Linked DNA regions of Homo sapiens: region 1 is linked to region 2. Evidence: fine-mapped expression QTL. A gene starts in region 2. The other region holds a variant in brackets. All regions are shown on one strand. Distances are from middle to middle.

Region 1 (11,765 bases), 44 kb before region 2:
CACCCTTGCTGAGTATATAAAAAATATAATAACAAGAAACAGAGGTGGCTCTTGGTTACTTCATTCCTACAGAGTTGAAAGGCCCTAGCTAACTTTACTGTTTGTTTATAAACTGCCTTGTTCCAGAAAAGATTGAAGGACACTACTCCACTATAATCTCCAAGAGGCTTTGTGATATGTTGTTTGACAAGCAGCACAAAAACCTCAAACCAATCAAACTAAAGAATGAGGGGACACAGCCTAGAAAGACATTTTTGTTTTGATCCAATGATACACACAACACCTGCTTGATGCTGCAACATGGTCACCAATAAATGCTTAGTTAACAAATGTTTAGTGAGTTTGTATATACTAGACAATGAACTAGAAAGACACCATAAGGAAAACAAAACAAGAGATCCTTCACTTTTGGGAGTTAATACTTTAACAGGGAAATAGAACAGCAACTGAATCCTATTCTGGAGGTTCCTATGTCAAGATGGGGTAATAAGGACAGAATTTACCCACATGCCTGAAACAATTAAAATGGACAAAATATATGAAACAAGTTTTACACACACACACACACACACACACACACACATATATTTTAAAGAGATGGTTCTTGTTATGTTGGCCAGGTTGGTCTTGAACTCTTTGGCCTCAAGCAATCCTCCTGCCTCAGCCTCCCAAAGGGCTTGGATTACAGGCATGAGTTACCATACCTGGCCAGAAACAACAGTTTTCAAGACACTGGCCATCAGGCAACAAAGGACAGTGATCCCTATGATATGGGAAAAACAGAGGTGAGCCCTGTGATTACCTAGCTTATTGTCTGGAGAAAGGTTCCAGGCTGCAGATCAGGGAGCAGAAATTCAGGCAGAGCCTGGTGAATGCTGAGCTGCAGACACAGCTGAGGTCCAGAAAAACCAAGGCAGCCAGTGTTTGAAGGATAGGGAACCAGAAAGGAGGGAACTGCACAGAGAGGGAGCCCAGGAGTTGTGCAGAGGGTCACACTGAGTGTTCAGCATAGCACCGACTGGTACATGTATGTGAGGAACTACCTTGAGCCAAGGGAAAAAAAAAAACTTCTGAAAGCTTAGAGGTAATAATGCCCATGTTCATGCAGAGCTGGGAATAGAACCTGTTCCCACCAGCCAGACTGGAAAAGCTCACAATTCACAAGGCTCACAATTGGGTAGGGAACTCAGAAGGGTCTTGCCTCAGTATTGGGGAAATAATTAGCCCTAGACTGAACACTGCTCTAGTCCCACCTAACACATCTTTTTTTTTTTTTTTTAAGACAGAGTTTTGCTCTCGTTGCCCAGGCTAGAGTGCAGTGGTGCAATCTCGGCTCACTGCAACCTCCGTCTTCCGGTTTCAAGAGATTCTCCTGTCTCAGCCTCCCTAGTAGCTGGGATTACAGGCGCCCGCCACCACACCCAGCTAATTTTTTTGTATTTTTAGTAGAGATGGGGTTTCACCATGTTGGTCAGGCTGGTATCGAACTGCTGACCTCGTGATCCACCTGCCTCGGCCTCCCAAAATGTTGGGATTACAGGCGTGAGCCACCGTGCCTGGCCCACCTAACAAATCTTAAAAGCAAGACTCCAAAGAATCAAACTGTTTCCAAGTAACTTAACTGCACCCCAGAATGAAACTCAAGAATATTTATAGGTATATCAATACATCCAGCACTGGAAAGTTAATATGTTTGATACCCAATAAACAATTACAAACATGCAAAGAAACAGGAAAATTTGATCCAGAAGAAGAAAAAAAATCGGTCTATCAAAATTGACTTAACAATGATAGATGATAAAATTGGCAAGTAAGGACATTAAAAATTACTATAATTATATTACATATGTTCAAAAAGTGAAGTAGAGGCATAGAAGACTTTTTCTTTATTTTTTTTGAGACAGAGTCTCGCTCTGATGCCAAGGGTGGAGTGCAGTGGCATGAGCATGGATCACTGCAGCAATGAACTCGTAGGCTCAAGCCATCCTCCCACCTCAGCCTCCGGAGTAACTGGAACTACAGGCACACACCACCGCATCCAGCTAACTTTTTTTCATTTTTAGTAGAGGCACGGTCTCACTGTGTTGCCCAAGCTGGTCTGCAACTCCTGACCTCAAGTGATCCTCCCGCAGTGCCGCAATTACAGGTGTGAGCCATCATGCCTGGACGGAAGATTTTTTTTTTTAAAAAAAGCGCTGGGGCCGGGTGCGGTGGCTCATGCCTGTAATCCCAGCACTTTGGGAGGCTGAGGCAGGTGGATCACGAGGTCAGGAGATTGAGACCATCCTGGCTAACACGGTGAAACCCCGTCTCTACTAAAAATACAAAAAATTAGCCGGGCGAGGTGGCAGGTGCCTGTAGTCCCAGCTACTCGGGAGGCTGAGGCAGGAGAATGGCATGAACCCAGGGGGTGGAGCCTGCAGTGAGCCGAGATCACACCACTGCACTCCAGCCTGGGAAACAGAGCGAGACTCCATCTCAAAAAAAAAAAAAAAGCGCTGGGTGCACTGTCTCACACCTGTAATCCCAGGTACTCAGGGGGCTGAGGTGGGTGGAAGGATTGCTTGAGGCCAAGCATTTGAGAACAACATAGCAAGACCCGCCTCTAAAAAGAATTTTAAAAATTAGCCAGGTGTGGTAGCACATGCCTGTAGTCTCAACTACTTAGGAGGGTGAGGCAGAAGAATCACCTGAGCCCAAGAGTTTGAGGCTGCAGTGAGCTGTGATCATGCCACCGCTCTCCAGTCTGGACAACAGAGCAAGACCCTGTCTCTTACAAACAACAACAACAACAACAACAACATCAAAGAACAGACAGGACAAATAGAAAAGATATACCATGACATCTAATCAAAATAAAGAAAGATAGGCTCTATTAACATCAGGCAAAGTAGGTTTTATAGCAAAGAATATTACCAGAGATAAAGGTCATTTCATTATAACAAAAGGGACAATTCATCAAGGGGACATAACAATCCTAAAAACAAGTAGCAACAAAGCCTCAGAGTACAAGATTCTGAAACAACTAAAAGCAGTACTTTAGGCCGGGCACGGTGGCTCACACCTGTAATCCCAGCACTTTGGGAGGCCAAGGTGGGTGGATCACGAGGTCAGGAGATGGCGAACATCCTGGCTAACACAGTGAAACCCTGTCTCTACTAAAAATACAAAAAAAAATTAGCTGGGCATGGTGGCGGCTGCCTGTAGTCCCAGTTACTTGGGAGGCTGAGGCAGGTGAATGGCATGAACCCAGGAGGTGGAACTTGCAGTGAACCGAGATCGCGCCACTGCACTCCAGCCTGGGCGACAGAGCAAGACTCTGTCTCAGGAAAAAAAAAAAAAAAAAAAGGCAGTACTTTACGGTATGTAAATCATATGGAGAAATGCTGGAGGAAAGGAACTATCCAGAGTGGGTGTAGTTATCCAGGAAATGTTCCCCATGAAACCGGTTAACATGAGTAACAAGCCGTCCATCTGGCTAACTCCTCACCCCAAGGGAGTTAACAGTGAATCATTCAAATGATATTGCATGACCGGTCTGAAAAGGAGATGCCAGCATCTGCATGACTAATGTAAATAGCCCATTTCAAATATCAGCTTCAGTGCCTGGGAAGACCACTTTTCAGAGGTCTACAAGGGACATTTAGGGTTCATACAATATGATTACAAAAATAAGAGCCAGTTTTTACCTTTGGACTTAGCGGAAACCAATTGCCCAGTGGTGGTTATGTAATCCTCTTGATGTAGGCAGGTTTATAATCATGATCTTTCTGGTTTACTAAGGGATCAGGTCTGTCTTTCCTCCAAAGAAATCACATACTCAGAAAGGTGAGAAAGAGGAGGTTTTCTGGAAAGCTAACATAACTGTGAATAAATAACTTGGACAGCATATGGGAAGTCCTTAGTTTAAGGCAACTGGGTTAAATTTACCTTTAAAAAAGCAGGGAGGGGCATGTGGAATTCTTGGGAAAGAACAAAAGGGCATTCCATTCTCAGGATAGGAAAAGAGAAAACAACCAAAAAGCATAAATGGCTGTACCCCAAGGCCCAGCAGGAAGAAAAGGAGTGCGGTGCAAGGCAGGGAGGAGCCCATACCGGGTGAGTCAGCAGCTCAAACAGAATCAGAATGCACATCTCTGTATAGGATATAAGGTGCAGCCATGGCTCTGGTCCATCCGTGAAATAACACAGGGAAAAAAAATTCTTAGTCTAGGTAAGGGCGGAGCATGATACCAGCAATAGAGAGGAGGAGTCCCCAGCAAAACAAAACAAAATGACAGGTAGTAAAAAATACTGAAGACTGGGACACAGTATTTCTTCAAGTGATAAATTCATGACAAGGTTCTATGCCTTATCTATCTTTGAGACAGAATATGCATGCTATGTAAAAATATGATGGGAACTAATAATCAGCACTGAGAATTTTCACCATTCTCCAAACGAGAACAAGCTGGATGAATACTCTCTTTCACTCCTGTGCTGGCCTATGTCTCAGTTATACATTCTGCAAAATTTTAAGGAGGAAGAGGTAAAAAGTAAAATATTCACCAGTATAGGACAAAATACTCCCCTAAATGCATGTAAGACATAAGGCCTTGAGCTTCACTTAATTAGGATTACTTTCTTCTTTTCATATATTGACATATGCTTTCAATTCTGTAAAACATATAATCATTTCACAAATCATGAGGTGAAATTATTAATGGATTTACATATAATAACTCTTAAGTGTCCTCAGTCTATCAGGTTTCTAAAAAACATTTTTTAGCAATCTAGAAAATAAAATTTGGCATGAATATTTACTTTTATATTGGTCAAAAGGAAAAACTAAATGTGAAATTTTTGGTTTTATGAGGATTCCCTCCTGTCCTGGCCAGTTATGTGTAATTCTGGCTCCAGAAACAGAGTCTGCCTTTAAGTGAAAAAATAAGAAGTATAATTAATTGTCAGTCTCAGAATATAAGAAAATAGTCTAATGACTAGGTAAGTAATCCTTTTAGTGGTTCCCAAGTTTTTGCTTTTGAAAAAATTAAGCAGTCGGCCAGGTGCAGTGGCTCCACCTGTAATCCCAGCACTTTGGGAGGCCAAGGCAGACAGATCACCTGAGGTCAGGAGTTCGAGACCAGCCTGACCAACATGGTGAAACCCCGTCTCTACTAAAAATACAAAAATTAGCCAGGTGTGGTGGCAGGCCACTGCACTCCGGCCTGGGTAACAGAGTGAGATTCCATCTCCAAAAAAAAAAAAAATTAAGCAGTCATCTGATAGATCCTTTAAAATAATTAATTTACGATGAGAGCTCACTATGTGATTTTGGCATATAATTTGGAAAGAGTTCAAGGAACTGAATGACACTGCTACAACATTCCCTGGTCAGAAGGCTAATATTGCCATTAGGTACTGCACCCTGAGGCCAGTCATCTTTGAATGAAAAAATCATTTAGAGACCAAGAGAACATCTTATGGATTCTAACTAATCTAAATGTACCAAAAAAGTAAAATGCCTTTGTTTCTCAATAGAGGTAGGTTTGCAAACTTTTATGAAGAGCCAGGAAAACCTCTATTGCCTGGGAAAGCATCCTCAATCTGAAAGTCTATCTCCACTAAAATAAGCTATTAAGTAAAAAATCTGAGACTCAACCCAGGTGTTCAGGGCAGAGTCATAGGAGAGCTATCTTTAAAAAACAAGCTTCTGGATTTTTGGAGCTACAGAGATTAACATTTAGGTTGATGGGAAGTATTCTAATAAGACATAGATGAATTACTCTGAGGACCTTCTGGAACGTGATCAGGATCCTGGAGATGAGATGAAGAGAGAGGAAGGCATATTCGTGACTAAGGATAACTAAGGCTAACTGCTTTAAAGATGAGAGTCTAGGGTGGATTTCAGAACATTAGAGGTGGCTTTTTGCTATATTTCAAAGCAGAGCTTTACAGCCAAAGTTGCTTGATTGTTGAAGAGGAATTTGCCCTCCTTCAGGTCCATGGTACTGTGACATGGCTTATAAGGCTTGATTCTACCACATCTGATAGTATGTGCTTCCATCAGATAGATTAATGAAACTCACAAATTCATCCCATGGTTGTTCTGGACCGCTCCTCCATGACAGAGAATGAAAATCTCTTGTTCGGTAATCATCTCCCATATGATCCTTTACAGTGATTTCAGTGTACCCATTAATAAATCTGGTCCTCAGGTGGGTGTGGGGGCATGTGCCTGTAGTCCTAGCTACTCTAGAGGCTAAGGTGGAAGAATCGTTTGAGCCCAGGAGTCCCAGGTTGCAGTGCCACTGCATTCCAGCCTGGGCAACAAGAGAGTGAGTCCTCATCTCTAAAAACCAAACCAAAAAAAAAAAAAA[C/AC]AAATTTGGTCCTCACAAAAAATATATGACATAGGCATGCCAGATGCCCGGAATGTATGTTTCCATCGATATAAAGTTCAAAACAGACAGAACTAACTATTGTATTAGACACTATGTTGGTAATTACCTTTCACAAGAAAGGGAAAAGTGACTGGGAAGGAGCATGATAGGGCCTTCAGTGGGTGCTGATGTTACCTTTTTTTTTTTGAGACAGGGTCTCGACTCTGTCGCCCAGGCTGGAGTACAGTAGAGCAACCTCGGCTCACTGCAATCTCCGCCTCCTGAGTTCAAGGGATTCCCCTACCTCAGCCTCCTGAGTAGCTAGGATTACAGGTGCATGCCACCATGCCCAGCTATTTTGTATTTTTAGTAGAGACGGGGTTTCACCATGTTGGCCAGGCTGGTCTCGAGCTCCTGACCTCAAGAGATCCGCCTGCCTCGGCCTCCCAAAATGCTGGGATTACAGGCGTTGAGCTACCGCGTCCGGCTGCTGATGTTATCGTTACCTGAATGGTAATTACATGGTGTGTTTATTTTATAATTCACTGAGCTACATACAGATGACCTGTGCATTTTCTTTGAGTAACAAAAAGTTCATTATTAAAAAAAAGCTATCATCTTAATCACTGCATCAGAGCTGCCCATAAACAATATTTAATAGACATATGTAGCTAAAAGAGGCAGTAAAAATACCGAATGTATTATAAAGAGAAACCACTGATTGTGAATGTAAAATTACTTGTTCAACTACTTCCATTTATTCTTACCCATCTAAAACCTAAAGTAAGAAGTAAAAATTTTAAAAGATACATAGGAGGACAAAGATATTCTACCATAGTTGAGGATACAGCACTTTTTCCTATGTCACCCATATTCCTCACCTCTATCCTTTTCCCCCTCTTGTATTTTCTTATTTTCCGTAATTCTTCTCTGCTTTCTTTCCTATTTCCTCTAATCCTCCAAGATATTTTCCTAGGTAACTGGAGATTATGAAACAAGGGCATATTAGGAAGCTTCCGGGGTTAGCCTGGGACAAATGCAGCTTTCTTTCAGGTCTCTTATTTTTTCTCCTTCTTATCCTCAAATTCCATAGTTTTTTTCTGACATCTCTTTTTCTCACATCTCTCGCTTTGTTTCTACCTCCATTCCTTTCCAAATTATACCCCCAGGGTCCACCTGAAACACGCAGAATAACAGAAGGTGATCAACCAGTATTTTTTCTCATAAAATTATGTTCTTCTATTTAAGCAGGATTAAAGCCATAAACACTGACATACGTATGGCTGCACAGAGAAAATATAACCAGTAGTTTTCTTTGACAAATAAAAAGGAAGAGATGCCTCTGCCTGTCTTTATGATTCTCCACACTTCAAAACTCTGCATTGGTTTTGAACTCTTTTTCTGGCCCCAAACACCTGAGGGACATGACATTCCCACCTGTAACAGTAGCGTGATGGTTAGTTTTATGTGTCAATTTGGCTGGGCTGTGGTGCCCAGCTATTTTCTCAAACATTGTTCTAAACGTTTTCATGAAGGTTTTTTGTTTTTTGCTTTTTTTTTGGATGAGATTAAAATTTAAATCAGCAGACTCTAAGTAAAGCCAATTAACCTCCATAATGTGGGTGGGCCTCATTTAATCAGTTGAAGGCCTTAAAAGAACAAAGATTTATCTCCCCAAAGTAGGAAGAAATTCTGCCACTAGACTGCCTTTGGACAAGAATAGTAAATCTTCCCTGGGTCTCCAGGCTGCTAGATTTTGAATTTAAAAAGCCTCCTTAAAATAAACTTTTCTCTCCCCTCACATCCTGTTGGTTCTGTCTCTCTGGAGAACCCTGACTAACTTAAATAACAAAGATAGTGATCCTTAACAAGAGATGAAGAGGAAGAGGACTCTAAAGAAAAAGCACAGGGGCTGGGGTGATGGATAATTTTAGAAAAGTCAGGTGCAGAGCTTACGGCTTACCTACTCAATAGCCATTCACAAGCCTTCCTCTACTATAGAAGCTGGAGTGCTAAAATGAACTTTCTTGCTTCCCTTGCAGCTAAGGGGTAGCCATGTGACACAGTTCTGGCCAAAATGATTGAGAAGGGCCTCTTTCTCAAATAAAAAGCCCAAGTCCCATTCTTCCTGCCTGGACTAATATGAATTCAGACATAAAAATGGTGCCTGCAAGAGCTGATCTTCAGCTCTGCTACTGCTGCCACCATTCCCCAGTATTCTATACACAGTATTCCAAGTAAGAGTGAACGTAGAATTTGGCTTTTTAGGCCAACCTGTATTCTGACCTGTTTGGAAAGCTGAAAAACTTATCCTGTTTCATTTAAGTATTATTATATATAGAACTTTTAAAAACACAGCTGTGGCTGGGTGCAGTGGCTCATGCCTGTAATCCCAGCACTTTAGGAGGCCTAGGTGGGTGGATCACTTGAGGTCAGGAGTTCGAGACCAGCCTGGCCAACACTGTGAAACCCCATCTCTACTAAAAATACAAAAATTAGCCAGACGTGCTGGTGTGCACCTGTAATCCCAGCTACTAAGGAGGCTGAGACAGGAGAATCGCTTAAACCCGGGAGGCGGAGGTTGCAGTGAGGCGAGGGTGCACCATTGCACTCCGGCCTGGGCAACAGAGCAAGACTCCATCTCAAACAAACAAACAAACAAACAAAAAAACAACCACAGCCGTACTCAGGCTCCACTGAGAATACATAAGCTCAAACACTTAAATGGGGGAGACTTGGACTAGAAAAATTTCCTAAAACTACTGATTATGAAGCATTAGCAATCATAACCATGAATTAATAATGATGGGTATAGAATAGCTTTTTAAAAGGGTCTTTGAAAATATGGCATGAATTGTTTTATGGCATTCCACTTTAAAGAATGCAGTTAGAATAGATGCCTTAACATCATTTGTACTCTGTAATCTACCACTGAATTTTAAGTTTCCTTCAATATACTTTTAGATCTGTTATAGTAGAGAATTAAAGAATGTTATTCAAAATCATTGTGTAATAAAACCTCACTAACATCATTAAGAAGAAACTTATTGACCAAGTTGATGAAAAATGTAAATAAAGTATCTAAACCAATAAATGTCTAAGTCAACAGTATCATATATTTAAGGCTACCAATGATGTACCTCTAAAAATATGATTTTCTCCACACCCACCTATAAAAAGAAAAATCAAGTGTTACCACATAATGACTTTAAAATTCTGGGGCTTACCTTTTTTTTCTCCAGTGTAGGGCACATAGTCTTCCCTGTCTTTATGCTCCAATGCTTCTTTCTCCAGATATGAAAGGAGATGCTCTCTATCAAATGGCCCTGTGGTGGACTTTGATGTCTGGTTCTTCTGCCGGAACCCTGCAGGCAGAAGGGCATTCTGCCAGAGAGAATGAATCAGCCAATATGACCAATAAGAATGCTAATGCTATATGCTTCCGAAGATTACCCATATAAAAAAGAATTACAGACTGGAATGTGATACAGGCACTAAACACTTCATTGCAGGATTTTAGGACAGCAATGTACAATTGCTCCAAACATTAAACTTCTTTTTTATTAGGTAGAATTCACTTACATTATTATTAAAATAGGCACATACATTAGTACAGTTTCTTTTCTTTTTGGAGACAGTCTCCTTCTATCCCCAAAGCTGGAGTGCAGTGGCATGATCTCAGCTCACTGCAACCTCTGCCTCCTGGGTTCAAGTGATTATCATGCCTCAGACTCCCAAGTAGCTGGGATTACAGGCGCCTGCCACCACGCCCAGCTAATTTTTGCGTTTTGGGTAGAGATGGGGTTTTGCCATGTTGGCCAGACTAGTCTAGAATTCCTGACTTCAGATGATCTGCCCTCCTCGGCTGCCCAAAGTGTTGGGATTACAGGTGTGAGCCACCGCGCCCAGCATACGTTTTCTAATAGAACATTTTCTTCAGAGAGGATTCTACTAGCAGAAAACAATCTTTAGTTTTTAAGTGTTCTGGGATACTAATAAAAAAGTTTTATTAACCACATACCACATCTTCTTACTTACATAAGTGGGAGTCAATGATGAGAACACACGGACATATAGAGCACACATATAGAGCTAAGTGATGAGAACACAAGGACATATAAAGCACACATATTGGAGCATAGAGGAGGGTGGAGGGTGGGAGGAGGTAGAGGATCAGGAAAAATAACTAACAGGTATTAGTGATGAAATAATCTGTACAACAAACCCCCATGACACAAGTTTACCTACGTAATGAAACCTGCACAGGTATCCCTGAACTTAAAACGTTTTTTTTAAAAAGTTTTATTAATGCTTAATAACTGCTCAGTGTATATATATGTACAGAGAATAATTCTATTACAAAAGAGTTTTAAATGACTCTGTACATTATATTCCTTCATGACTTCCATTTCATTGTACAGACTTCTTCATGATTACAACATATATACCATACAGTAGGATATCAGATTAATGTTTACTTCAGTTTAAACACAACGTGAGATGTTCCACTTGTGTGTGTATGCGTACATATATACATGACCACTAGGATGTACTTGCTACAATCACTATCATTGTTTCACATGCCCCAAGGGACCCCTGACATACTCACAGCAAGAGCTATGTTCCTGGGTTTCCACACGGGTACAGCCTTTTTGAGCGCATGGACTGACTTAGAGATGAGGGAGGTGCAGTGGAAGGTGATGGATTAAAGTTGTCTCCTGTAGTCCCTTAATTTTCACTAAGCCCAGTAAACACAAGGGCTGACTAGACAAAGTGAGTACCGTCCTTTCACTTGTCAAAAGCCAAAGAGGTGATACTGCCTTGTCTCATATTTCTGGGTATATCTTTGCTTTGAAAATGGGAGGCAGCCAGAGAAATCACACAAAAGGGCCAGCTCTCTTTTGCAAAACCTCCCAATATTGGCAGTGACGCTGAATTTCATGGGTGGTATAAGACAATTTTTCATTATAAAGGGTAATCTTATATGGGCAATAGTAATAGAAAATATTCAATTTGTAACTAGGAAATACAGCACTTCAACTGTGGTCATTTGTTGAGACACATAATAATTTTCATAAAATTCACTTCTGTGTTACCCTTTATGTAATGGTACCTACTACACAGAAAGCTGAACTGTAAAGACGAAACATTCCTAACTTTGTACCAAGTATGTTTCTGTAATACAAAATTGTTTATGGAAACATAAAAAAGAAACATAAGATTTCTACCTTTAGACTTAGAAATCATGAGAGGAATTACACATGAAGAATCCATTTCCAATTGACCTGCAAGTCCTACTCATTTTTACTTCCTGAAGAACTCATTCATCTTTTTCCCATCTCCAACATTATTACTTTGGTCGAAACTATGATCTAAGCTTGCTGAGACTGTTACATTAGCTTCCCA
Region 2 (11,765 bases):
CATTCTAAACATCTGCCTATTTTATAAGGAAGATGCAATTGCTTCTAAAATGAGGTTGTCTCCATTAACTCGACCCACAGAAAAGCCATTTAAAATTCAAATTCATACTTAACATTCTTCCATCAGGAAATACATGGTAACTAGCCCTGGATCAATCTCAGTCAAGTCCCAATCTGGAAGAGGAGCATAAACATTTAATTTTTAAGGTCAGGGTCCGTGCTTAAGAAACTGACAATATAAGCACAACTAAAATGCAAAGTAGCTCAGCTGACACGCTAAGATGCCAAGTCAATCTAATGGAGAAAAACAAACAAAAAAGAGATGTGTTCTGTTTTGTCTTGAGACAGGGTCTTACTCTGGCCCTCAGGCTGGAGTGCAGTGGCATGATAACAACTCACTGTAGCCTCCACCTCCCTCAGATGATCCTCCTGCCTCAGCCCCCCAAGTAGCTGGGATTATAGGTGCATGCCAGTACTTCCGGCTAATTTTTGTATTTTTAGTAGAAATGTGGTTTTGTCATGTTGCCCAGACTGGTCTCAAACTCCTGGGCTCAAATGATCTGCCTGCCTTGGTCTCCCAAAGCGCTGGGATTACAGGTGTGAGCCACTGTGCCTGGCCGAGAAAGGGAAGTTTTTCTTAAACCTATGTTGCTGGAACAACTAGATATCTATATAGGTGGAAAATGAACCCAAACTCCTATCTTATATCATAACACAATAATAATTACTTTGAGATCAATCACAGACTCAAATGAAAAACTTAGAAAAATAAAGTTTCTAGAAGAAAAAGCTTTCTTTGCAATCCTGGGCACTGGTAAAAATTTATTGGTCAGGACAAAAAACACTAGCCATAATACAAAAAATTGATAAAACAGACTTTATAAAAATTAAAAATTTCTGCTCATCACAATATCATTGAGAAAGTAGACAAGGGACAGACTGTATAAAAAAAAACTGTCAACACATCTATCTCTATATGTGACAAAGAACTTGTACCTTGAATATATAAAGAGCTCCTACAAACAATAAAAAGATGAATGACCCAATGAAAGACTAGGTAAGACTTGAACAAACAATTCACAAAAAAAGATACTGCATAGCCAATTAACATATGATAAAGCACTCAACATTCTTAATCATCAGAAAAATGTAAATTAAAACCATAATGAGGTACAACCATACATCCTGTAGTGTGACTAAAATTGAAAAGGCTGACAATACTAAACATTGGCAACACTAAAAATACGGAGCAAGTAGAACTCAGTATAAACCACTTTGGAGAACTGTTTGGCAGATTTTTAATAAAGTTAAACATACACATACCCTATGACTCAGTAACTCTGCTCCTAGGTATTTATCAAGAAACTTGTAAAAGTATGTTCATAACAATCTTATTCCAAATATCCATCAAGGAGAAAATATAAATTGGGGTACATTCATACAATGGAATACTATTCAACAACTTAAAAGGACAAACCACTGATACTTGCCAACAACATAGATGAATCTTTCTTACATGAAAGAAGCCAAACACAAAAAAAGCACATGCTGTATGATTCCATTTATGTGAAGTCCAAGACCAGTCAAAAAATCTCTGTAGTGTCAGAAATCTATGGAGTCAGGAAGTGATTGCCTTTGGAGGAAGGTGGGTGAGGGAACTTTCTAGGGTGACTTAAAAAAAATGTTTTCTATCTGATTTTGGTAGAAGTTACAGTGTATACAATTGTCAGAACTCCTTGAACTGGATATTATGTGCATTTTATTGAATGTTAATTATACATCAATAAAAATACAAAGTAGCAATGTGCTTCAAGATACAGACTAACAATTTTGTTTCAAATGAAATTCAAGACTACACAAATGCATCTTCAGTTACACAGCATTTTCAATCATGTGCCATTCTGATTTATTCACACTTCTATTCTTTGATCATTGTAAATAAGCTAATGGATTACAGACACATATAGATAACAGAATGTATGTTCACATACATAATTTTTTATAAACACCAAATTAAATTTGATTGTTTACAATTTAAATAAGCACTTAATGGACCAGTTATAGGCCCAGTAGAATATTCTATTGTCTATACCATTTTTCTCTCCATATATTTGTGATTTTAAAGGATCTGACATAAAACTGCATGTAAATCAAATGTCAGCAAGGACTATCAATGACCAAGGGATGATAGCGCTTTAGCCACACGGCCTAGAGAATAATGCCCTCCTCATCTACTCTAATCGAGAGAGCTCATGCATATTAAAGAGCAACTGAAAAGTGTGAAGAGTAGTTTGCCAGCTACAACACAGCCTAAATATCAGTATACATCAGACTGACACCAGAAAACCTTACTAAAAGCCTTTTTTTCCTCTACTGTTTACTGGATCCTCCTCTTTATCTTTCTCCCTCCCTCTATCCAGGTATACTTTTATCCGCAAAGCCTCTCATCCTCCCTGTGATATTGCTCAGATATAATTGATTTTCTCTTTTGTTTTAGTTTTTGAGACAGGGTCTTGCTATGTTGCCCAGGCTGTCCTGGAACTTTTGGGCTCAAGTGGTACTCCTGCCTCAGTCTCCCAAGTGGCTGGTACCACAGAAGCGTGCCACCACATCCGGTTCTAATTATGTTCATGTATCTGGCTCATCTCAGGTTCCAAATAAAATAAATTTACAGAATTCCACTATACTCTATGTAGATATGTCACATACATTCAAACAGTATAGACAGTATAGCCTGGGGAAAGAGATGACCAGTGAATGGAAAAAAATATTGACTTTAGTTGTTCCCCACTCCTGCAACTGGAAAATATCTCTCCTGAATATCTACCACGTTTTTATTCCCTACAGGTGGCTCTTACAAGTGCTGTGGACTATACATAAGTATATCTGCCTAATCCCAAAGAGAATAAGGTCCTAGACAGGAACCATGTCATTCATATATATATATATATATATATATATATAATTTTTTTTCTTTTTTTAGAGAGACAGGGTCTTACTCTGTCACGCAGGCTGGAGTGCAGTGGCACAATCATTGTCTCTCACTGTAACCTCAAACTCCTGGGCTCAAGCAATCCTCCTGCCTCAGCCTCCTGAGTAGCTAGGACTACAGGCATCACCACTACACCTGGCTAATCTATTTTATTTTGTAGAGACAGGGTCTTGCTATGTTGCCCAGGCTGATTTCAAACACCTGGGTTCAAGCAATCCTCCTACCTTGGCCTCCCAAAGTGCTGGGATTACAGGTGTGAGCCACCAGGCCCGGCCCTGGCCTCATGTCTTATACATATTCACCAGGAGCCTGAAACATTGCTTTGTACAGAATACAGAATGGGGCAAGACACATACTTGAATTCATGAATTGCCAAATTAATGTGAATGAAAACAATTAAGGAAGGAAGAGGAGGAGAGAAAAAAAAAGCAAAGAGAAAAAAGAAAAACTAGCAAAGAGAAAGGAAAAGGAAAGAAGGAGAAAAACTTATGATGACAATTGTTCTTGTTAGAGTTCATAGGACTACAGTATTTTAAAAAACTGAGAGTTGAAAAAGCCATCAATTATGTATCTAATATCAGTTATCAGTACCAGTATTTAAATTGCTATTAAAAACACCTGAAAATACCTCTAAAATTACCTCCCCACACTTGACATTCAAAGTATGGTCTCTGACAGCATCACCCATCAGACATACAGACTTTGGACTCTACTTCAAACCTAGAATATCCTGAATGAATTATGCATGCTAAAGTGTTTGAAAAGACTGCCCTCCACCATTCAGGGCCTTTCTGTTGTACCAAACCTGTTTTGTTTCAATGGGCCAGTAATTAAGACACGAAAAATCTTTGAATGGGATTTGACCTGTACCTATTTAATTTCAGATGAAGTTATTAATTACAATGTAGGTTGGCATATTGGATATACCACAAAATTTAGGAATTAATCATAAAAAATATGATTAAATAAAATTGAGCAGTAGGTCTACAGCATTCTCAAGAACTCATGTTTGCTCTTTCTCATGTCTATCATAGGACTTGGAATGCATATCGCCAGTGTTTCCTGAATGAGCAAAATAAATGAACTTTTAAAAACGAGAGATATTTAGGGGCAGAATAATCTTGGGGGTCATCTGGTCCAACAACCTAATTTTAAAGATCAGCAAACTACAATTTCTGAGAGTTGCAAAAGCAAAGAAAGCTCAAAGAATTAAAATATATTGGGACATTTTAATTCGTTTTGTTCCTTTCGTAGGAATGTGTAAGAAAGGGGACTGTAACTATTATGATTGCTGACTCTTAAAGGTGAAAAGGTGCCTAGGAAGAAGAAACTAGCAAGAGTAAATGAGACTTGGCAAAGCTATTTTTCCAAGCCTAATATATTTTTGACGGGCCAATTAATCAATTTAATCTGCCAAAAAAATTAATCTGAAGGTTTCTCAGAAAAGGAGAGGAGACATGAGCTGCATGAAAATGTTACAAACCAAGGGAGGCTGCACATAACTAACTTAAATCTCCACAGGCTTATTTCCTGTTGAAGTATGGCCTCCTGGGGTAAGTTTTACTGCAGTGTTCATTGCCAGATGACTTTTGGTTTTAACAGAGGCCAAGGGCAAGTTGGAAATGCGATTCTTAACTAAACATTAAAAAGAAAAAAAGAAACTGTGGCTGTTTCCCATTTCTGTTTGTAATCAGAATGCAGGCTTGCGGAGGAAACACACCATCCCCCGCAAGCAAAAATATAACGACACAGTCACGTCCTCAAAACAAACTAACACACAAACTTCCCAGCCGGATCCAGCTGTGCTGCCTGGGAGCTAGGAACTTAATTCTAAGAGCAGACAGATCAAACCGGTGAATGCAAGGGCAGCCACATTTCAATCACAAAAAGGGTGTGCCCTAAGTTTTGGCTCCCCCACTCCGCCGCCCCACTTTCAACAAGCCGAAGCCTTTGAAGGAGGCTCGGTGCCATCTCGGTGTGATCGCGTCCCGGCGACGCTGGGTAGGGTGCAGGGAGCCAGCTCGGCCGCGGCTCAGCGGGAGGGGAGGGGGCCGGTCCCGAACCCGGGCGCCCGGGCCGCGGGTGATTCACTGGGAACGCCAGGTTCGCGCGCCTAGACCGGCGGGCGACGCCCAGCGCGCCCCACGTCCCCCGCCCGGGCCGTTCGCGCAGAAGCAGCCCCCGCGCACCCCTGCTCCCCGAGACGGACCCGTCGGGAAGGAGCCTGGAGTCGGGCGGCCGGCGGGCAGCAACCTCTCCCTCCTCAGCCACCATGGCCGGTGCGACTCCCTACCCGCGCCCGCAGACGGACTTCCTGGAAAGCACCGGGCTGGGCTTACCTGACTGGCGCCCGCAGGGGCCGCCGACCTCTTCACAGACCCACGGAAACTGCCGGCCGCAAGCCGAGGCTCGGTTCCCAGCACCCGCCGGTCCGCCCGCGTCGGCCTCCCAAAGAGTTGCCAGACCCACCCGCCAGCAGCTCCCTCACTCGACCGCCCTGTAGGTGCGGTGGGTTCCTCCTTCGCCTCCGACGCGCGTGCGCACTCCCGTGCCGCGGGGCATCCTGGGAGTTGTAGTTCTAGCAAGAAGGGCGAGGCTCAACGCTGACCCTGGTCTTTACAATGGGCAGAACGTAGGAAGGGGACTGCGAATACCAACCCTTATCCCAGTCTAAGATAATGTTCTCTACCCGTGGAAGTACCTACTATGGACTTCCCCGAAGCTGGAAATAGTATCTAGAGGCTCTTTGGTATAGATTTCCTTTTTACTTTGACCTTTTGTAAAGAAGCGCACATGGCAGGGCTTGCATTGTAGCCTTGGTTGTTAATGCGAGGACATGACATTGGGGCCTTTAAACTGGTCATGACAGAGTTATAGAAAAGTAAAGGAATAAAATCTAAAGCCCAAGAGAGGCATAAATCATGCGAATGTCACCTCCAGGGTGTGGTGACCTTAGTGGTTTTCTTAGGTATGCGTTTCGGGGATGATGTAGCTATTGCAGGGCAGTTTCTGCCCATCCTATCTTCCCTTTCCATCTTCAAGCTCTACACCAGGCGGTGGGGCTGGCTGCTGTAGTGGGAGAAAAAACAGAATAGGCTGCTCAAGGGGGGGATTGGGGCAGATGGGTAGTCTAGAGGGAAGAGGAAGAGTGTGGGAATCTCTCAGAGGACTGTTTGACAGTGGCCTATGTAATGGCTACCTTTTGTGCGAGGCTCTGAGGAGAGGGAACTGCGACATTTTTCCATTTATTCATTTAGTCACTTACTGGGAATTTTCCTGGCCTGCTCTTCAGGAGTAGACCATCCCCAGGAATAATGCTAAACTTTGACACACCTTTCAAAAATGCAGCCAAAGAAGTGGACTGACGTGCCTGCTTGAGGTACATTCCAGCTACACCCAGTGTGCGAGCCACTTCATGGTTTAAACCTCTCCTGGCATCTACTTCTTCCCCTCAGAGGAGGGAGGACCCTAGGTTAGATAAACATCCTGGAATTTCATGCAACTGGCACCCACTAATTTCAGCAATGGAGATCACTGATGGTTTAGGTTTTTAAGGGAAAAAAACCCTTCTTTTTTTTTTTCCAAGACAGAGTCTTGTTCTGCCGCCCAGGCTAAAGTGCAGTGGTGTGATCTCGGCTCACTGCAACCTCTGCCTCCCAGGTTTAAGTGATTCTCTTGTCTCAGCCTCCCAAGTAGCTGGGATTACAGGCACGTGCCACCACACCCAGCTAATTTTTGTAGTCCTAGTAGAGATGGGTTTTCACCATGTTGGCCATTCTGGTCTTGAACTCTTGACCTCATGATCTGCCCACCTTGGCCTCCCAAAGTGCTGGGATTACAGGCGTGAGCCACCGTGCTTGGCCAGGAAAAAACCCTTCTCAATTGCAAATACTTAGAGGACAGTCAACACTCAATCTTGTGGCCATTGCATTTTATTTTCTATACCATCTTTGGGTCAATCTCTTGGAGATAACAGCTTTCTGAGAGCAATTTCCTACAGAATTCAGGTTCATAAGAATGTTTATACTTATAATACATACCAACCACTGGGCCAGCACTTCATTTGTAATATCTCATCTAATCCTCAAAACTAATCTAGTCCTCAAAACTCTATAAAGAATAAACTGGTATCCTCCATTTCTATAGATAAGAAAATGAAGACTCAGAAAAGTTAAGTAATTTGTATAAGGTCCCAGAGCCAGTAATTGGAGATCCAGAGATGAGACACAGTTCTCTTGAGTCAAATTCTAATGTGATTTCCACTGCTGATCAGACTGATGTGTCTCCTAAATCTCATCAATTTTTTTTTTTTTGAGACAATCTCATTCTGTCACCCAGGCTGTAGTGAAGTGGTGCTATCATGGCTCGCTGCAGCCGTGACCTCCTGGGCTCAAGCAATCCTCCAACCTCAGCCTCCTGAGTAGCCTGAGCAGCTGGGACTACAAGCATATGCCACCACACCCAACTAATTTTTTTAATTTTTTTTTTTTTGTAGAGACAGGGTCTCCCTATGTTGCCCAGGCTGGTCTTGAACTCCTGGGCTCAAGGGACCCTCCCACCGTGGCCTCCCAAAGTACTGAAATTATAGACATGCAACACCATACCCAGCTGATATGGTTTATTTTAAGAAGGACTTTCCTCTGCAATATGGCTTCTTTTGCTTTGGTCAGAGAGACTTTTTAATTCAGTGTCTGACTGACTTAATCTATTACACTTTTCCTCTCTCACCTTCCAATATGGGCTGTTAGGCATATATTAAATATATTTTCGCTATTCATTTCAAATTTTTCCTAACGAATGTATACATCTTATTTTAGTTCCTTTTTCTAAAATAATGCAGTTTGATGGTGGATTTTTTCCTTTCTTCAGGCATACATTATCATATTTTTATCACAAAGCTTATAAACATGAATCTCTTAAATCCGTGTACATTAAATACCACATATGGGGCCAGAGATGTTAAGAGTAATACCTTAGTATTGGATAGCACTGAAGAGGTAGAACCTTCCTCACTTCTTCCACTCCTTTGCTATAACACATTCGCTATATTAGCAGCCAGAATGACTTTTTTTTTTTTGAGACGGAGTCTCTGTCTGTCGCCCAGGCTGGAGTGCAGTGGCGTGATCTCTGCTCACTGCAACCTCTGCCTCCGGGGTTCAAGCAATTCTGCCTGCCTCAGCCTCCCTAGTAGCTGAGATTACAGGCCCCCCACCCCACCACACCCAGCTAATTTTTGTATTTTTTTAGTAGAGACGGGGTTTCGCCATGTTGACTAGGCTGGTCTTGAACTCCTGACCTCAGGTGATCTGCCCACTTTGGTCTCCCAAAGTGCTGGGATTACACGCGTGAGCTACCACTCCCAGCCCAGAATGATCTTTTAAAAACAAATCAGATCATATCACCATCTTGCTCCAAACCGTTCATGGCTTCCATCACATTTAGAATAAAATCCATAATTAACACCTCTACAAATCTGTATATGATTGTTTTGTTTCCTACCACATATTCTCTCTGATACTGCTCTAGTCATACTGGCCTCCCTGAGGTTTCTTAATCCTGCCAAGTTTCTCCCCATCTCAGAGTCTTTATGCTGTGCAGGAGAATGATTTTCCTCCCAGATGCTTCTAGCTCATGCCCTCATTTTAATGAAGGTTCTGCTCACATGTTACCTCTGAAAGTCTTCCTCTTACCACCTTACCCTGCCATTCTCTCCTTTCTTTACTTGTCGTCATAGCACTTTTACCACATAGCTTCATATTGCTTGTTTCCTTAGTGGAAGCTCAACAAGCTTTGCTTTGTTTACTCCTCCATCCCTAGCATCTACAATACTGCCTGCACACAGAAAGTATTCAATAAATATTTGTAAATAAATGAATGTTGGGTTCTTCCCTCTCTCTCCTACTCTCCTCTTGGGACACAGACCCAGAAGGTTCACCTGTAAATGCCAGCCAGTGACCTGATTTGGATGTAAACACCAGCTGCAAGAGGGTTGACTACACAGGAGAATAAGATCCTGTGAAAGTCCTGAAATAGAGACAGAGCTCTCTTTTAAAAAGGCTATAATTTAGGGTTGCCACTATTCCCTTAGAGTTGGAAACATAATTCTTGGAGGAAAACAAACAGGAAAAACATGGAAATTAGATTTACATAAATAAGTGAAAAGGTAAGTCCACTAAATACCTGTGGTAGATTGAAATATTGTTCCCACATATTTGCTCTCCTTTAGAGGAATAGACAGGCTTGCCCACTACTATGTGACTTCCAGTGCTGCCCCGCAGGCATTCCAGGCTTGGCTATGATCCCATGATGGGATTTTCCTCCTCTCTTCGGTTAAATGTCATATTGTAATCACAAAGTTTAGAAACATGAATCTTGCTTTGGTCAATAAAATATAAGTGGAAGGGACAATCCGACAGTTCTGGGTGGAAGCTTTAAGAGTCACTGCCTTTCTCTACTAGTGTGCCTGCTCTTTCCCTCCACCAAGAGAGACAAGTTCTGAATAGAGGCTGGTCCTTCTGCCTGGGTTCTAGAATAAGAAATTACATGGATCAGAGCCTCAGCCACTAGCTGACATAATATATAATGTGAGCGAAGGGGAAACTGAGGTTTAGGTTCGTTTGTTACTATAGACTTACTTAGCAAAAGCTGACTACTATAGTGCCTAATCAAAGAAACATGATGATCTGAACTAGAAGTGGTATGGCACCCCCAACCGTCTGCATTTAACCCACTTCAAGTAATGGAAAACTGTTGAAGTTCAACAGGCTAACACACTACAGAGAACAAATCTGAGGCCTTCAGGTAAAATATTTGAACAAGGGACAGAGTATGGTTCCCATTAGTGTTCAGGGTTTGGTTAGAGTGAAAGTGATTGATAAAATGACACTTCAACTCTACTTTATGTGTTAATATTACAAGCTCTAATTAGTGTTATCTCTAAACTTCCAGCCAGAATAACTCAGAAAGCATGTCACACTGAATCATCGTATGCTAATTAATAACAGCAGCACTTTTCTTGTTATCAAAGAGTTCCTTTAGGAAATAGTTACTTTGGTATATGTAAGCATATTTTGTGTGTATGTAAAAACGTGTATTTATAGGAGAGCTGAGAAAAACTAAAGACAAAAATTTGAAATGAAAAGGGAAGGATTTCATTATGGAAGCTTGGAGGTAGGAATCCTATGGAAGCAGTGGGAGGTAGCAATCACAGAAGACAAACATCATGGCTGGGTACATACCGGTTTTTTTTTTTTTTTTTTTTTTGAGATGGAGTCTCTCTCTGTCACCCAGGCTGGAGTGCAGTGGCGTGATCTTGGCTCACTGCAAGCTCCACCTCCCGGGTTCACACCATTCTCCTGCCTCAGCCTCCCAAGTAGCTGGGATTCCAGGTGTGCACAACCATGCCTGGCTAATTTTTGTATTTTTAGTAGAGACGGGGTTTCACCATGTTGGCCAGGCTGGTCTCAAACTCGTGACCTCAGGTGATCTGCCTTCCTTGACCTCCCAAAGTGCTGGGATTACAGGCATGAGCCACCACGCCTGTGTGCATACAGTTTTACAGGAAAGATTCAAGCACACTTTTTGGCCTCAAGTGCCCCTTTTTCTATAACCCATCTCTGCCTGTTAGAAGCCTCCTCATGTTTCATTGTCCATCTCAAATGTCTGTTCCCCACTCAACCTTCACTAATGCCATCAGCTGGAATTAATTTTGCCTTTCCCATATTTTCATACCCCATTATGCCTCCATTAGAAGTGCACTGAATACACATTTCAGCCAAATGCCAAAAGGGCCAAAAAATAAGTCACTCTTCAGCTGAAGCCAAAGTTGATGACAAACATCACTATTAAAGAATAAACTTCTGGGATATGCACATAAACCTAAAATATTATCCCCAAATTTTAATACTATTTTAATAATATTAAAAATGTTAGTGCTAAAACTGTTCAGTTTAACATTTACTATAGAAGCAATAAATTCCCAGTGCTGTCCATTGTTAGACTCTCCTACAGTCACTGCAGAAAGCCAAATTTCAGCTCAGGTGAGTGAATGAATATGATCCCTGTCATAAATGGAATTAAATAAGAATTAAATTCAGGTCTTTAAATGATAAATGCTAGATGCCCCAAACCCTTCTACCAAGACCAGAGTTGTGATATGATTTAACTTCTGCTTACTTTTCCTTGTCTTTATTTATTTTTATTTATTATTATTATTTGTTTTTGAGACAGAGTCTCACTCTGTCGCCCAGGCTGGAGTGCAATGGCACGATCTTGGCTCACTGCAACCTCCACCTCCTGGGTTCAAGCGATTCTCCTGCCTCAGCCTCCTGAGTAGCTGGGACTACAGACGTGCACCACCACACCTGACTTATTTTTGTATTTTTAGTAGAGACAGGGTTTTGCCATGTTGGCCAGGCTGATCTTAAACTCCTGACCTCAAGTGATCCTCCAACCTCGGCCTCCCAAAGTGCTGGGATTACAGGTGTGAGCCACCGCGCCTGGCCTCCTTGTATTATTTGAATTTTTTATAAACATTTATTGGCTTGAAAACAATGTATTGTTTTTTCTAGGTTATCTAGCCAATGGATTCCTTCTTGATATTTGTAGTGATTGTCAGCTTATTTTCCTATTTGCTTAAAAGTCTTAAATAATTGTTTCTTTTTGTCTTTTACTAAATTCTTATTGATACATTATAATTGTACATATGCATGGGAGTACATGTGATATTTTGCTACATGATACAATGTGTAATAATCAAACCAGGGTAATTGGTC

Which allele goes with the higher level. Alleles are on the strand shown, and positions count from the first base shown. SD is a standard deviation of normalised expression in the study named.
For the expression in monocytes after LPS of the gene that starts at base 5,514 in region 2, allele C in region 1 goes with a higher level than allele AC (large effect, 0.86 SD a copy in Quach 2016).

What was found.
Region 1: its variant is fine-mapped to the expression of TMOD3 in monocytes after LPS (Quach 2016, PIP 0.95).

What each region holds. Positions count from the first base shown.
Region 1 is chr15:51,867,195-51,878,959 of GRCh38, reverse strand. TMOD3 (tropomodulin 3) reads right to left here. Exons shown (of 10, transcript NM_014547.5): 3 at 9,587-9,743. Among named protein-coding and RNA genes, the nearest start is that of TMOD3, 43 kb to the right of the region's middle. The variant C/AC (reference allele first, on the strand shown) is at 6,360.
Region 2 is chr15:51,823,402-51,835,166 of GRCh38, reverse strand. TMOD3 (tropomodulin 3) reads right to left here and starts at 5,514. Exons shown (of 10, transcript NM_014547.5): 1 at 5,331-5,514. RefSeq lists silencers at 4,955-5,234, 5,455-5,609.